2 separate regions of the Homo sapiens genome follow, and region 2 is linked to region 1. A link means that fine-mapping ties the variant in region 1 to the expression of a gene that starts in the linked region. Tissue or cell type: sun-exposed skin. Region 1 holds a variant in brackets; the other region holds the start of a gene. All regions are shown on one strand. Distances are from middle to middle.

Region 1 (8,420 bases):
CTCTCCCCTTTCTGGGTTCCAGTGAATGTTCTACTCTATCCTGAGATCATCAGTGAGCTGTGATTGCCCTGGCCAGAGCCTGAAGGGGAGGGGGTCAGAACGGGGTCACACCCTGATTGCCTGGGCCCTCGCCTGGGAGGGGAGGAGTGTGGCCTGGAGGTGGGGACACCCGCAGCTAGGGTGACTGTGAATTCTAAGGGGCAGAGGATGTGGGCTGGGCTGCGTTATGACTTTTGGGGGCCCTGGGCAGTTTTGCCTTCCTCCATTAAAAAAATACAAAAAATTATATTTTACAATTGTGCTGGTAGAAAGACAAAAACAATCCTGGCTGGATTCATTGTTATATATTCATTTTTTTTTTCTAAATTTAAAAAGGTGAAAAATTAAGATATTTTTGTGGCCTCTAAAAGTACTCCGTGGCTGCTGGAGAAGTTGTCCCTGGGCTACAGGGCCATGAGAATCCGGCCCAGGGCAAGAAACATCCCTGGGTTCAGATGAACCCTCTTTGTGTCCACAGAGATCAACTCTTGTTCACTACTGCATGGCTTCACTTTTCTTTTTTCTTTCCTTCCTTTTTTTTTTTTTTTTCCTTTTTTTTCTTTTAAGGCAGGGTCTCACTCTGTTGCCCAGGCTGGAGTGCAGCGGTGCGATCATAGCTCACTGCAGCCTGAAACTCCTGGGCTCAAGCAATCTTCCCACCTCAGCCTCCGGAGTAGCTGGGACTACAGGCGAGTGTCACCACACTCAGCTAAATTTTGAAAAATGTTTTTGTAGAGATGAGCGTCTCATTATGTTGCCCAGACTTGCTTCACTTTTCAAATGAGGAACCCAAGACTTAGAAGAGGAAGTTGTCCAAGTTCTAAGCTAAGCTAGTGACATTTAGAGTAAGAATGTTGGTATAGACGTTTTGGGTCTGAGCTGCGTGTGATTTCATTACCATGAGCGCTTGTGAGTGTGACCTCATCCCCACACATGGCAGGGGTCTAATGACTGTGAAGCCCACTAATTTAGAGTTTTGTGTGACAGCATGTGGACAGAGTCTGAAGTTAAATTTCCCTTTGCGTTGTCTAGGAAGAAAGGATGTGTAAAGAAAATGCAAAATGTAAACCAGATGGGGATGTATGTAAAGTACTGGAGTAATTTGTTGTTTTCAAGCTTTTAGAAGCATGAATTTATGTTGTCAAACAGCTAACGATAAACCTGTATGCTACACCACAGGTAAGACTTAACTGGTCATTAAAACCGGTTTCCTGAGACCTTTTCTAAGCAATGCACTAAATATGGAAAGCAATACAACATTATTTCTTAAAAAAATAAAAACAACTTCAGATTGGCCCAGCCCAAGCCCAGATCTAGGCATGTTTCTGAATGCTCTTTGCTGGAGTGGAACAGCAGATGAGGCAAAGCTCCTTCAACTGCTAGTTGTGAGTGAACCCACAAACTCATATCAAGTCAACAGCTGTGATTAGCAATAGCTGGTACTAGGGACTGTAGCTCAAAACAAAACAAAGCAAAACAAACAAGCAAAAACCTACCATAACCCAACAGCAAGAGCAAATGGCTCCTTTGAAACCCTGGGTGCCCTTAGCACAACTGAACCTAAATGCTCACACAGCAAGCACTGTGATAAACTTGGGATCTGTAACAACATACATTGCTCGATAAAGTTCCCTTCCCTCCCTTTGTTGAACCTCACATTTCAAAACCTTACTCCACACTTCTGAGGACCCCTACTTCTGGGAATTCCTGCTTTCACAGGAGAGAATGTATTTAATATAATGATTAATCAGGATCATGAATTGCCATGTTTCATTTCCTTTAATAATGAAAATCCATAAGGGTTTAAAATACTCTTAGACACACCTAGCTTAGCAAATATCATGGACCTCTACATTTATGTGAATTCACACATGAGCTAGCCAGCACCTCAGTTCTGGCTGGCCCCCTTTGGCACCAGGACACAATAATTTATTAAGCTTCGATACTTAATAAATGTGCACAAATATCATGCAGACATTACGACCAAACAAAAAATGTATTAGAGACATAGGCTTATACAAAACATCTTGTAAACAAAAGGGAAGAGGTTGATATTTTCTGTACAAAATATGCAGGTTTTTCTTTCTTTTTTAATAATCTGTAAGATGCATCATACTTCTGGCATTTTCAAAAAGTGAAAACTGTATAAAAATAAATATTCTATGTACAAACACACACACAGGCCAATCCAAGGTTAGAGGCATCACTGCAAAACAAAAACAAAACAATGTTCTGTTAGTTTCAGTGGGTCTGCAGAGGTTTATTTCCTTTGTAGGAAGGGAGGTAAATCTTGTCCTGGGTTGGATGGGAGTTCTGGACAGGAGAACTGTGGGAACCCTGAGCCCCTAGGTGAAAGAAACTGGTGGCGACCTTAGCTCCCTGAAGGGAGGAAACCAAGTTCACCTCTCTGTGAATCCCCTTTGTGGTCACTAGAGGGCACTCTCTTTCTCTGCTGCCTTTGGAGGCCTGATTGTTGTAACCACTGCATTGTCCCAGATTGGACTTAAGGTGTGAATGAGTAGTCTTGAAGCTCTCTGGTTGCTTCTCCAAGACATTGCAGCTCTTGGTAGTGGCTGTTCTTCCCCTGCTAAGCACAACCATTTCTGTCTCCTAACCATTGGCAGCAACTTTAAAGAGGAAATTTTTTTAGGGGTCAAGGGTTCAGAGGTCTTATGACACCTCTGACCTGCTTTTGTGGCGCTTTAACTAGGTCTAAGTGGAGCTTGGCAGGAGGACGAGGCCAGCCTCCAGGGATGGATTCTGGGGAGGCATCTCTCTTGAGTGTTGAGCTTTTCCTTCTTGGGTTAGGGGGTGCTTTAGGTATCCAGGCAGGTAGGTGGTCAGCGTTGGCCTGGGGTCTTGGTGGTTTCACCACTTTTACCCAACCCAGTGCACTAGTGAGATTCTGGCATCTTAGTACAGGGGAGCTTGTTCATCTCATTGTAAGTGTGACTCTGCTGCCACTGGAACAGGACTGGATTCGTTGAGCACAGATTCTTGAACATGTTGGAGTCTCCGGTCCCTTTATGAGGATGAACCTTGAGACAATGGTGGTGGGGGGTTGGTGAGAAGACTTGGAGTGACAGGCAAGGTGGAGGGAGACGGTATGGGGCAGCATAGTGGCTGCCACCATTGCTGGGGACCAAGGCGGGTCTTCTGGATTAGTTAGCAAGCAGATGGCCTCTGTCTGCCTGGGCAGCCCTGTGCTCTGGGGAGCCATGGTTGAATGGGGCGATCACATGCAAGGGCACAGTCCTATGATGTCAGACTGCTCTAACAATGGCAAATGCCAAGGCCAGTGTGAATCAATGAAAACTCATTGTTGGTAGGAACTCTGGGAGCCCAGGAGAGATTTGGCTGCAGGTCACATGTGTGGTGGCATGAAGCTCTGCCAGCTTAAATGCAAGGGGAGTGGTAGAGTGGTGAGGAGCACAGCCCCTAGGGGAGGCACAGTAGCATGTGAGTTCAGAGTGAAAGCAACTGAGATGTCCTACGTCTAAGACATGTCATCACGTGGCATAAACGACCTTAGAGGAACTCTATGAGTGTGATCTGGAACTCCTTGGGGAAGTTCCTTGGGGGAAAGACACTATGTACATTGAACACACAAAGCATAAAGATGTCACCTGTGTGGCTGCATGGACATTCCGCCTAGGGTTTACTGATGTTCTAAGAAGCATTTTAAAATGTTTGTTAACAGCATGCAGTGTATGGGATGTTTAATGGGCACCCTGCCTTTGAGACAGTGACTATTTGACCTATGTCTTGCTGCCTCATCTGTAGCAAGGCAGAATGGAAATTGTGGAAGCTTTATGGCACTGCTGAGAACGGAGCCCCAGTGCACACCAATGGGAAGCCTTACCTTGTTCCAGCAGCCTTGGACTGGTAAGCCATCTTCGCCCTGCAAGGAGAAAGGAAGGCAGAGGGCTCAGACTTCCTGCAATGGTCCACCAAGTGGGCAGGACAGGGGTAACAAGGGCCACACGCATTTTGGCAGCTGATCAGGATGTGGCCCACCCACGCTTGTCTATTTCTTTTCTCTACTACAGGTCAGAACCTCAGAAGGAGGTGGAAACAAATCCGGCTATTTTACCATTGGTTAAAGGTCACATGCAGCTATAGTGCAACGTCAATAGGGGCTGTCCTAGCCCGTGGGACCAGCAAGCAGAGATGTCCTTCCGTGCCACGAAGAAACAGTCTCTGCTGTGGCCCTATGGAGTGCCGGCTGCTCACGGGTAAGCCACTCAGCACAAGGCGGCCTCAGTTTCCTCCTCCATAAAACCTTGGCAAGGACAGTTGCTTGATGTGACCGCTAAGGGCCTTCCCAGCCTTCTCATTCTCTTATTTGTCTCTCTTCCTAAGCACAGGGAGGAGGACATGTAGACAGTCCTTCTTTGATGATTAATCCTGGGGTGGGGTGAGGGGCATGAAGGGACAGGCAACCTCATGAGTATTGCAGGATGGCCCTGA[C/G]ATGCCTTTGGCAAGAAGACAAGGGTTCCTGGCGAAGCCTTAGACCTTGCTGGGAATTTGGGGGTGAAGTGCAGTAAAAACATGGGAATCAACTGCACACCGTCGGTCTCCTTTGTTGGTAGCAACCATGCAGCTCCTTTAGCCTCAAGATGTTCGTGTTCTGCCCTTGGTGATAGAAACTTTCCTGAGTTTTCTTGGGCCCTCATATCCTCTCCTTGCTGGCATACCCTATGGGGAATCTAGAAATCTAGAGACCCAGTGGGGAAGGCGAGGCTGGGCCAAGGGCAAAGGTCTGGTTCTCAGCCCAAGTCTGCTAGACTGGCAGGGCAGACAAGGAGATGGACATGGGGCTTCAGGAGACCCGGAGCAAGTGCTCAGTCCTGAGGGAGCTTGTGGAATGAGAGTCCTCTGCTGCCCTGGTCTGACGTCATCCACCCACGCCAGGGGCTGAAACCTCTCATCACCTGGCATTCAGCAGAAATTGGTCCCAATATGGAGGGCTTAGGAAGTCTGGTTATCTTGTAGTAAAAGTCATGAGCAATAGCTACCCCTGCCCCTCAAGCCCATAATAACACAGAGGAGGAGGCAGAGTGAGAAACAAGGGGAAGACACTTCCCCAGTAAAATTAATAGAAAATTGACACATTGATATGGGATGTTATGGAAGAAAATGCCATTTTACATGGAGAGTCAAATCAGGGTGACCTTCATTTTCCCCTCTGGGTTGGGGAGGGGATTGCAGGGGGAGGAGGTGCATTCCACAGTTTCAGGGTGACCCTGTGCCCCTTCCCCAGCCTGCCACGGTGCGGTATGACACACGTCACATGGATGCCGGGAGGGAGAGGAGCCTCTGTGGGCCAGAGCGGCATTCCCATTGGTGTGTGGATGGTGGCAGGGGGATATGGAGGGCAGGGCAGGCAGAGAATGAAAAGTAATGTATGGTGAGGAACAGAGAGGCCAAGGCAGCTGCTGGCAGAACTAAAGGTGCCCAGATTGTGGGAGGGGATTGTGGCTGAGGGAAGACCTGGCCAGTGCTCAAGGGAGCCCCTGCGGGCCAGAGCGGCATTCCCATTGGTGCGTGGATGGTGGAAGTCCTGGTTGAGAAAGGTGGCTGTGCAGTCTGCAAGCGCAGGGTTTGGCAGGACCAGCAGGGACAGGAAGCATGCTACCCGCCTGCTTGCTCTGCACTCTCCTTTTGTTGCCTATGCTCCTCCTAAAAAGTCCCTACTGCCCTTCAAGGGGCTCTACGACCACCTTTCAGGGTCACACAGCATAATTTCTTGTATCTTTTTCTCTTTTGTTCAAAGAGAATTCCTGTGTGACCCCAGGGCGGGGATGTGAGACCCCAAATTCTCTTATTACTGGTATGATAAAATAGCTCTTGAACTCCAAACCTATTGGGGAAATTTGGGGAGAGCTGTAACCCCTTGAGCCTTGGAGTGAAGTGTTCCCTTCAGCTTCTTTTGCAGTAAGAGGATCAGCGTGGAGGCCTAGACTGTCCATGCCTAGAGAGGGACTGGGCAGGCGGGAATAAACTGCTACCACTTCGCCTGGGACGTGCTTGGAAGAGAGGTCCTTAGCTGTCTCCCTGCCTCCTCCTTAACTACATTCTTGACCTTTCCGTCTCTCCCAGACTCTTCAGTAAGAAGCCATCTGATCATGAAAGAAAGGGACGAGGAAGGGTCTGGTAATGTCTTTGGAGATTTAAGCAAGAAGGACAAACCCTTTAGGATCCGAAAACCTAATCCTGGACCATCCCCTAGTTCTGATGGTGTCACCTGGGCAGCGACCCACGATCCAACCTGGAAGAATAGGCAGGTGGCCCCTCCTCCAGCTCACTTCTAGAGCTTCTCAGTCTACTCTGTAATCATGCCCTTCTGTCCCCCAAATCATGTGATGGAGGAGCAGGGGATACAGGGCTGATCAGGCATCTCATTCACATGTTTCGCTAGGTGCTCAGCCAGTGATTCTGAACTAACTTCACTGCCTGAAGGAAAAGAAGTGAGTCATGGTTCTGAAAACCAGTCCAGAGAATCCACTTTCCTAGCTGGTATCTGGTGGCAGCTTTGTCTAGAATCAGCTTGGAGATGAGTATCAGAGGCAGCCAAAACCAACTTCAGGGTGGGAGAGCTGGCTGGCATCAAGTGGCTGTGCTTTAGAGGTAGCTGCAGCAGGAAGCCAGGAAACATCCCAGTAAACTTTGCATGCAAGAGGGTGGCATGACTGGGAGCCCCCAGAGTACTAGCCTAGGCGGGGTGACCCTTGGCATTTACAGAATGAAGAAGTGGGAAGTGGAGCCTGGGGGGGATGGAGGAGGAGTGTGGAGGGTGGCTGGGGAGAAACCCAGTATGAATCACACACATGGGGAAGCCCAAATCGGCCATGCAGGCAAGCAAGGGCAATGCCATACCAATGGGCATGGGGCATCCAGTCCGTCCAGCCCTGGTAACCCCGGCTCCCCTTTCTCTCCTTTAAAACCTCGGTGTCCCTGTTCACAAAACCAACCACGATGATTATTCAGGTCAAGGCTGGCCAGCTCCAACCATGGAATAGAGAGGCCCAGTCCTACCCTGGCCAGGATGCAGGACCCTTGAGGCATCTACAAACAGGGGCTAAATCCCAGGTGATCCCCCATCTCCCAAATCCAGCTTTTGTGCTCTCTTTGTGCTCTGGAGAGTTCAGCTTTGCACACATACAACCTGCCCCCTCTCCGTTGATCCTCCTCTCTCTACAGACTCACTTAGTGTAAACACAGACAAACTTCAACTTTAGTGCATCATAATTTTTAGAACCTTCAAATGGATTCAAAGGCACTTGAGAAACCCAGCAGAAGTGCCTCATCATTAATTGCTGGCTCTTTTGAGAAGGCTTCCCATGGGGTGTCTGTCTGACTACCAGTTCTGGTCTGCAGCTTTAAAGGTTTCAGCTGGATGGCTGGTGAGTGTTGGGAGGCTGTGCATTAGAAGCCCCTCATCTGGCCTTGTTCTGCCCAGTTTTGAGCATCAGTGGCCCTGAGGAGACGCTAACTCTGGTGTCCTGCATCCTGATCAAGTGAGGATTCAGACAGCTTGAACTACTGGCCCACAGAGGTGGCCATGAAACGAAGAAGGCAAATCCGTGGCTCACAAATGCTACACTGGCTTCCAAAGCCATCCTGGAGCTAAGAGCTGAGGCCTTCCCTGAAAATCCCTTTCCTAGTGGTTTCCTCACTTCCACACATCGATTGCTCTGTATCTTCAAAGGAAAAGGATTCAAAGGCAAGGGATTTAGCCAGAATTACTTGCAGCTGTGGTTACAAAGCAAATCCAACAGCGGGCAGAATTTCACCAGTCAAATGAACAGAGAGATTTTGGTAGCATCCGTGTAGACATTTGGTTCTCATCTTAGTTTATTTGCCTTCTTTGTTTCCAACTTACAAACCTCAAGAACAAAAACCAGAACAATGCAAGTGATAAACAAAAACATACCAATGGGCAGGGGGCATCTAATCCAGGCGCTCCTTGGTCTCCCTTATCCCCTTTAGGCCCTCTAGAGCCTTTCTTCCCCCTCTCCCCCTGTAAATAATGGTTTAGTCCGAGAAAAAAACATCAAAACTTTAAGATCATTCATGTGTTAAGGTTGAAGACAGAAAAAGAAAAATAAAATTAAAAAGGGAAAAAGAGATGCTTTAAATTAGGATATTCTCCCCAGTAGGATTTGGAGTCAATACCCACCTCCTCCCCACCCCCCAGGAACCTGAGAATTTGGCTAAGGTGGGTGGGAGGGGGAGGGGAGGACAGGCAGAGGGCTCAGAGCTGCAGGTGCAGGGAACCACAGACTGAAGATTTTGGTGGCCGGTTTTGCTAATACTAAGCCCAGCGTGGGTCTGTGCTGAACACAGTGGCTAGGGACCAACTTCCTTCTCTTTGAGTC
Region 2 (8,183 bases), 96 kb before region 1:
CACCCTCCCTTCAAGTCCAAAACTCTCTTCTCCCTTTACAAACTACTGTAGTAAATTTTTTGTGTATATCGTTATGTATTAATTATGTATTATCATTATGTATTATCAATCACTTTAAAATTATTACTTGTATTTAGTTATCCAAGCAAGACATACATTAATTCAAATTACAGAACTTGGCCGGGCATGGTGGCACACGCCTGTAATCCCAGCACTTTGGGAGGCACAAGCTTGTAGTCCCAGCTACTAGGGAGGCTGAGGCAGGAGGATCACTTGAGCCTAGGAGATGGAGGTTGCAGTGAGCTGAGATTGTGCCAATGCACTCCAGCCTGGACAAGAGATACTCCATCTCAACAAAACAAAACAAAACAAACAAAAAAAACAAATTACAGAACTTCAAATATTGTAACAAGGTTATGGATGGGTATCAATAATGATATGGCTAAAGCCCTTCTTGACAATTCCTCTAGTTCTTGTCTCTCTTAGTGGGCATCTTCTATACTTTTTCTGTCCATTTTGTATGAATTTTTACTTATAGAGATGTATAATTTTATATCGTTTTAATATCAATAGTACCATATAGTATGTACTGTTCTGCAATTTGCTTTTTTCATTAATAGTACATCTTGGTGATCTTTTTCTGTCTCAGTATGTATAGATCTGCTTCATTCTTTTGAACTGCTGCCTAATATTCCAGAAGACAGATGCACCAGAGTTTATTTAGCCATTCCCTGTTGATGGCTGTTAGGCTGTTTTCTACTTCAGAATGACCAAAATTGCAATGAACATCCTTATACATGCTGAGCTCACGGATGCCTGCTTCTTTGGGTGACATACTGAGAAATGGAATGGTGAGTCACAGAATGTGTGCATTATTAATTTTATAGTGCCAAACTGCTCTTCCAATTGGTTATATCAATTTACACACCAGTCAGCAGTATATGAAAGTACCTGTTTTCCCACTAGCTTGCCAAAATCACTTTTTACCTTGTTTTACCTGCATGTATATTTTATCTCCTAGGCTTGGGGTTGTAAGCTTTATGAGAGAAGGGCCCAATGACTTCCTTATATTTCATTTCTTTCCCTATCTAGAGGTGTTTAAGAATTGGTGTATACTCAGGAGGCTGAGATGGGAGGACCCCTTGAACCCAGGATTTCGAGACCAGTCTGAGCAATATAGCGAGACCCCCATCTCAAAACAACAACAAAACAAACAACAAAAGACTTGGTGCTCAATAAGTGTTTGTTGAATGATCTCTAACCACAAGTTCTTTGTTAATCTCTGTGCAATATACTTTCCATTTACCAAGACTGCATCTAACTTGGAGGTTATTTCTTAAGGTTGAAAAACATTCTTAAGAAAGTTGGCTGAATTTTTGCACATCCCTCCCCGGTAACAAGTTACAGATACCTTTCATTTAAAGTTGCCTAAGACAGGACTCACCTCCTGTTCTGCTGGCAGGAGGCAGTGAAAACAGATGTGGTTGTCTCAGACAATAGCTAGCAGGGTGTCCCACCCACTGGGAAATGGCAGACCAGAGGCGCTTTAAAAATCCTGGGAACCAGACAGAAGATGGAATGGTGAGGGAGTAGGGTCAGAATCACAGGGACACTCCGGATTCAAGGAGGTAAATTCTTTTACGCAGTTTTGATATAGAGGAAACCACTAATAATGTGTAAAGTCTGACAATTAATGGATCCAGGTGAGGTGTAACTGTGGTAGGATAGGAAAAACCAGAGAAGAGGAGAACTGGGCATGTTTTAAAAGGAAATTTGGCTACAGGAAAGAGGGGTTATGAAGATGTGAATTATGCGACTCAAGATAAACTTTTCCGCCGGGCAGTGCCTCTATTTATTTATATGTAATTTTAGGCTAAAACAATTCTAAAAATCACCAGTATGTTTCCAAATCTTGGAGCTCTTAACATTTAGTTTGAAAATAAAAAGTGTGTTAAAACGGATTGAGAATTATGTGTAGCTTAGTTTGTGGTTCAAAACAACACACACGAAGACACGTTCTCGCTCTTAATAATGTTTTCTTTTTCTCTCACCTATTGAACCGTTTCAGTAGCAACTGTGCAGCCCAGTGAGGTGACAATTGGATTTCAAAACAAACACAAATGAGCAAAGTGAGGAAACCATTTGCCGCGGTGGACTAATGGCCCCTAGGGGATCCTGGGGTCTGTGGGGCTTAGAACTGGGCCCTTGTTTTGAATTCCTCTGAGGTGGACAGAAGCTGGAAGGACACCTCAGTTCCAGCGTGGCTGTGACAGGGTAACTGCCCTTAAAATCAGGGCAGCGGAGCCACGGTTCCCATCGCGTCCCCTCAAACACTCAGGGCCCCGCACTTTGGTTTCTCAGCCCATTTCTTCTCGCGCCTTTCATCCCTTCACTCATCCAGGGCCGTTGCCAAAAAACCCTGGCAAGGACCAGGCCTCAGTCAGGCCCACGGTGGTCCACTGCACGCGACGGGAAACTCCTGGAGGAAGCTCGTTTGGCCCTTGGGGAACCAATGCCCCTTTGGCCATTGTTGTAAGGAACAAAGAGGGCAAGAACTGAGGGCGCCCCCCCAAGGAAAGGCGGGGGAGGACACCCACGGGCGATCCGGGGGGCTGGCCGGGCTGGGGCTGAGGTGCGCCGGGGCTGGAGGCTGGGAGCCGGGGGAGGCAGGGCTGGTCCCCAACCGCCGCGCCCCGCGAGCGATACGCACGGCGTCCGGCGCCCGGCAGAGCCCTTTCCTGCGCCGCAGCCAGTTTACTTTTATTCCCTTTTTCGATATTTTTATTATTATTATTTTTTCCCGCGCAAAGCGGGAGCCAGACTGCCCAGGCGAGCCACGGCCGGGCCGCCATTTCCCGGTGAAAGCGCAGCGCGCGTCGGCACCGGGCGCCCCGGAAAGGGAACCGAAGGGGAGTGCCCGGCCTCGCGCCCTCTTCCGCGCCGGCCCCGGGGCGCACGCCCGCCCGCGGCGCCCGGGTGTCCGCGCAGCAACCCCCAGCCCTCGCCCCGCCACCCGGCGTCCCCGACCTGACCTTCCCCGGCGCGGCCCGCCCCCGGACTCGGGTCCCTAACCTCCGCCCGGCTGCTCCGCGCCCCCTCCATTGTCAGCCTGGAGCCGCCGGCGCCCTGCCCGGGCACCTTCAGAGGCCCCCGAGCGGCCCTCCCCGGGCTCCCTCGGGCCCTGCGCAGCCCCCCACCCATCGCCCCGTGCCCATCGGCGGCCGGGCGCCTCCGTCCTCCCGCTCCTGCGCCCGAAACTCCGCATTCCCAGGAGACCTCCGCTTCCTCCGGGTCCAGCCTCGCCTGGGGCCCGCTGCTGAACCTCGCATCCCTCCTCCTTCCCCTCTCAGTACCCTCGACGCCCCCGGCCCCTCGCTGGCCGCAGGAATTTGACCACTTCTTTAGCAGCCCCCCCTTTATCGCCCAAGGAAGCAAGTTGGGCAGCTGGATTTAAGAATTTGTTTTTGCAGAGGGTGGGTCGGCTATCGAGGGTGCGCCCGCAGGGGCTCGGGGGAGAGGCAGAGGTGGTTCTCTCCGGCCCCTGCACTGCCCCGGCGGCGCGTTTTGTTTCCAGACCCCGGAGCACCCTAAACAATAATGCCATCGCCATGGCGGGCTCACCTGGTGCTGCGCCGCCTGCTCCCGGCGCCCGGTGCCCTCTGCGCGCCCCTCCACGGGCGCAGGTTTGGCCCACGCGGCGCCGGTGCCGGGCAGGACTCTTTGCCTTTCTTTGGGTTCTATCTGTGCGTGTCAATGGCGGCAAGCGGCAGTTCTCTGGGCCGCGGATAGTAGCGGGGGGAGGAGGAGGAGGGAGAAGGGATTGCTCCTTCTCCACATAACCACCTCTAGGAGGAGTTGCTCAGCCTCATCCCCCGCCAGCCCAGGCTCCGCGACGGGTCCGGGGCTTTCGGTGGGGCTTGATGAGCTATTGTCCTTCAGGAGTATTAATGGTGAAACCGCGCGGCCTCCGCGTACTTGGCCGATCTGCGAGACGAGCCGAGGGCCACTCGCTAACATGAGGCTTTCCCCAGAACTGGGCACAAACGCGCTATGGTCGCGATCCAGTCTCCTGTTAGCTGGATCCACCTTTGGTGGGAGAAGGTGGCGTGGGCGTTCATCTGGCAGCTCTGGGGAGAGTCTTCGAAGGGGAAAGCGAAAAATGCCACCTTCTATATTTTTGTGTCCTTAAATAATAACAAGTACATTAACGTTTGTGTCCACCACTGGGAAGAGTGCATAGGGCGGCCACAGCCACGAGAGCTGAGAATTTATATCCGTGCCTGTAGGCTTTTTAGAAATTAAGACCGATTTAGAATCCAGCGTTGCATAATATTTGGAGAGGCAGATGTATGTTTTGGTGGGTGAGACTGTGTGTATGGGCATAATTTTTAATTGGGTTGCTTTACAAGGTGTTAATTTGCAATATCCCAACGGGTATTTAGATGAGCGCGAGGCTATTGTCTTCAGGACCAGTTTTTATTAGTTACTAGAAAATGCATCTTTATGGGGGTGTGGTGGACACTGTCGGGTGTGATAATGGGGATTAGCAGTTGCTGTGTTCCTAGTGGAAGCCAGTCTCGGCTTTGTATTGTGAGTTGTTGGCCAGGGCTCCATGGCTGGAGGGGAGTCAAAAGAATGTGTTTATTTCAGTGGGAAATACTAACTTGCTGTGGACCATCCAGGTTTCCTCTGATTTCTCCTACAGTCAAAGGACTGTGAGAGGCAACATTTTGATCCCTTCCAAAAAGAGAAACCGGTGCAAACAGAATTCTCCAGCCTTGGCCAAATGGCTGATTTTTAAAGCTGTTACATTTGGTAATATTGTGTATATTTGCTACTACAAACTTGTAACTATTTAGGCAGTGGGGACTTTGGAGTGACTGAAAGCCTCCCAGTGCCTGAGTGGGAAGAACTCATGCCTACCACCCTCTGCGTCTCTACTAGTTAGTTAATCATGGCTATTGCTGGCGTTTATAGATAGCGGGTTAGGTTTAGAACATGTGCATTTTAAAGTGTATTTGCTGAGAAATCAGCCATGTTTCTCTCTGACTTCCTCCAAATCACGCATATATCATCAACATATGCATAAGCCTCTATTTCAGTCTCCTATGGCTTCTCAAACTCCCCTGGACTCAACAGTCTCTGTTTCTTGGGGCTTCCTTTACTCTTTTCCTAAGCCTTTCACGCCCTCTGTGTATGACCTCACTGTTCTTTGTCTTGGAAGGTATTTTCCAGGTCAGATATCCAGTCAGGATAAAGTCTTCTTTCCCCAAGATGTATATTTAAAGGGTTTCAAATGATCCCCTGGGGCATCCCATAATGATGTCCTTTCCCATTCCTAAAGAAAGGGTCTCTCTTCTTATACCTTCAGGTGTCCATTCTTCACCAGAAATAACCATCAAGCCAACATTCAAGAGAGTTCAGGAGTTTTCTATGAGTGCTTGAAAAATACTCATACTCTGTCATCCAGTCAGCCAGGCTGACTGAAATATAGTTGAATAATTCATCAGTAGATATTAGATTCACATTCTCCTTGTAATTTCCCAATAAAAGTGGCATATGTGGTCATTTTTATGTGAATTTTATATAACAGTTCATTCTAGCATTTTGTTATGTGCTATCCTGAGAGAGGCTGGATCTAGTAAATTTACTGGTTAGGATTCTCCCATTTCATACTGGTTGGTTTCTTCAGACAGATGATGCTGTCACAACTCAGAAAATCAAGGAAGAGGTCAGCTTCAAAATACTCTGATTCTTAGGATAAAAGGGTTCTTAGAGTTCACCTAGTGGAAACCTTTGCTATAGGAAGAAATCTGGTATTTGGAAGGGTGAAATGACTCAGCCATGGCCTCGCAGGACATTAGTGGGAGATCCTCCAATGCATGTCCAGATACCCAGTCAATGCAGTTTCCGCCAATTCCAAACTTTTCAGGATGTATAGGGGACAAATATGCCACTTAATATGCAGATCTAGTTGAATTATGTGTGTTTAATACCGAACATTTAACACATAAAAATTTAACACTGAGATAGTATCATATAATATTATATAAAATTAAAATACATTTTAAAAAGTCAACATGATCATAAGTTGATAAGTAATCTAGAGTTCCGCAGTGGTCTCTAGCTCGGGGAACCTCTGACAAGTTGAATAATAAAGAATGATAAGAGCTTACACTTATTGAATGTTTACTATGTGCACTGTACTAAGCACTTTATCCTAACTTATTTAATCCTTTCAACACTTGTATGGGGCAAGCACTATTTTCTCCTTTTTACAGACTGAGGCAGGGAGTGGATGAGAAACTTTCCCACAGTTATAGAGTTAGGAAGTGGCAGATCCATGCTCTTAATCACTGCCTTAATCTGAAGGTGGAGAAGTGCATTTGTTTTAAGCAAAGGAATTTTGCACTCAGTCACATGATCTGAGTCTAAGAGGGGCCCTTGGGCCCCTCCCAATAAATGTCCCTAAGGAGTCAGCAAACAGCCTAATTACAGGAGGGTTGGTTGATTACAGTTGCACTGAAAACATTTTCTTAACCCTTGACCTGTATGTGTGCATAATATTATGAATACAGGTATTGATTGTGAGTTGACTCCATTACAGCAAACATGTCTTTAATAATTTTATTGAGATGCAGGATGAAGCACTTCTCCATTTAGAGAGAGGCATGTAGCATAATTTAGAGATGAAAAAAAAAAAAGAATCAAATGAATCAGTCATCCAACCAGATTTGTATCCTATTGGGTTGCTAGTAATTCATCCACAAAATCATCTACTTCAAAAATAGCTTCATTGATTTACCCCCCAAACCCTTTTTCTTGATCCAAATTTGTGATTTTGTGTAAACTGAGTGGACTTTTATTTTTCATGATTAGTTCTAATCAGTTTACGATACATATTATAATTTGTGATCATTTTACCCTCCTAGGATCTTAATATGCAATTACCTTAGTAATTTCCTGACTTTGCATCTTCCAGAATTTACCTATGTGCATGTAGGTATATATTTATATCTGGCATATGTAAGTATATGCGTAAGATTTGTAGATCTAAATTAATTTTATTTGGGAATTTCTGATCTCCTTTGAAGTAACCTGAGATTCCCTGGGAGTGTCATAGAAACAGATGGAAATCATTGGTTTATGCACTTCTTTGGATGTAAGTTAGGAACTCTAGACACTGTATTAATTTTATCAAGACACCAACTGGTATAACTCTAAATAACAATGTGGGAGCTTGAGGTTATGAATGCAGACAAAGCACCAGGCTAACAGTATCCCACCCTGTGAAAGAATAAACACAGCGTCCAAAAGTACGTTGTAGCTAGGAAAATACTGGACAATTTGACACATAAATTTTTGTTTAAGCTGGAAACTTACAAAGTCTTTCCTGTTTTTATATTTTGAATAGTGAACATGATTGGTGTTAAACTTTTATTTCCTTGATCACGACTGATGACTTTAGGATCTTAATCATGTGTGGAGGGGGAATAATATCCTTAAAAAAAAAAGGACACGCAGGCAATCATTAGGCCAACAAAGACTATGCTTATAATTTCTGGCTAAAATGAATGTCTTGGTCTCCTAGCAAAAGAAACATTTTACTAGTCCTGGTTCTTAAAAACAGTGACAAACTATGTCTTTTTTGATACTAAGTCTTGACCCTTTGGTTCTGGGAAAGGGGATTTGCATGAGTAGGTATGTGTGTGTATAGATGCATATTTAGATATGTACATTTATATATGAATCAAATATTTGATGCATATGTTACATGTGTATACCTTGTAAGATGAGTAATGACTGAGATTCCAGTGTGCTCAGAGTTAGGGCTGGTTTGGATTTTAAAGAAATCTACCGAATGTTTAGCGTTTAACTGATGAACTATATTGTAAAAGAAAATGAAGTGTTTCAGCTTTTTAAGACAAATACACTGTCAGTCCCAATTATGCAAAGTTGTGGTTAGGAAAATAAGGCACGTGGTATCATTACGTTTAATGGAAACAGAGCCCAGAGCTAAGGGGAGTGTGCCAGTTGGTAACTTGCTCTGATCGGTTACGGAGCTTTCTGGGAGATCATCCTGTTACCTCCAGGCAGAGTTCTTTGTGACAATTGTGATGAGAAGTGGCAGCAAGTATCCAGAGAGTTTGGACTTTAGCATCTGTGTTGGCAGATCTGTGCAA

Alleles and levels. Alleles are on the strand shown, and positions count from the first base shown. SD is a standard deviation of normalised expression in the study named.
With allele C in place of G in region 1, the expression in sun-exposed skin of the gene that starts at base 3,776 in region 2 is higher (moderate effect, 0.42 SD a copy in GTEx).

Evidence for each region. PIP is the estimated chance that this variant, and not a neighbour inherited with it, causes the effect.
Region 2: it holds the start of MACROH2A2, and the variant in region 1 is fine-mapped to the expression of MACROH2A2 in sun-exposed skin (GTEx, PIP above 0.99). The same link has a PIP of 0.9 or more in esophagus mucosa and unexposed skin.

The regions. Positions count from the first base shown.
Region 1 is chr10:69,952,524-69,960,943 of GRCh38, reverse strand. It overlaps COL13A1 (collagen type XIII alpha 1 chain), which reads right to left. Exons shown (of 41, transcript NM_001368882.1): 39 at 7,976-8,062; 40 at 3,902-3,940; 41 at 1,800-2,245. The coding sequence ends at 2,243. LOC107984242 (a long non-coding RNA gene) reads left to right here. Exons shown (of 4, transcript XR_007062181.1): 3 at 4,089-4,274; 4 at 5,966-6,049. Among named protein-coding and RNA genes, the nearest start is that of LINC02636, 53 kb to the left of the region's middle. RefSeq lists a silencer at 4,056-4,125. The variant C/G (reference allele first, on the strand shown) is at 4,510.
Region 2 is chr10:70,048,439-70,056,621 of GRCh38, reverse strand. MACROH2A2 (macroH2A.2 histone) reads right to left here and starts at 3,776. Exons shown (of 9, transcript NM_018649.3): 1 at 3,622-3,776.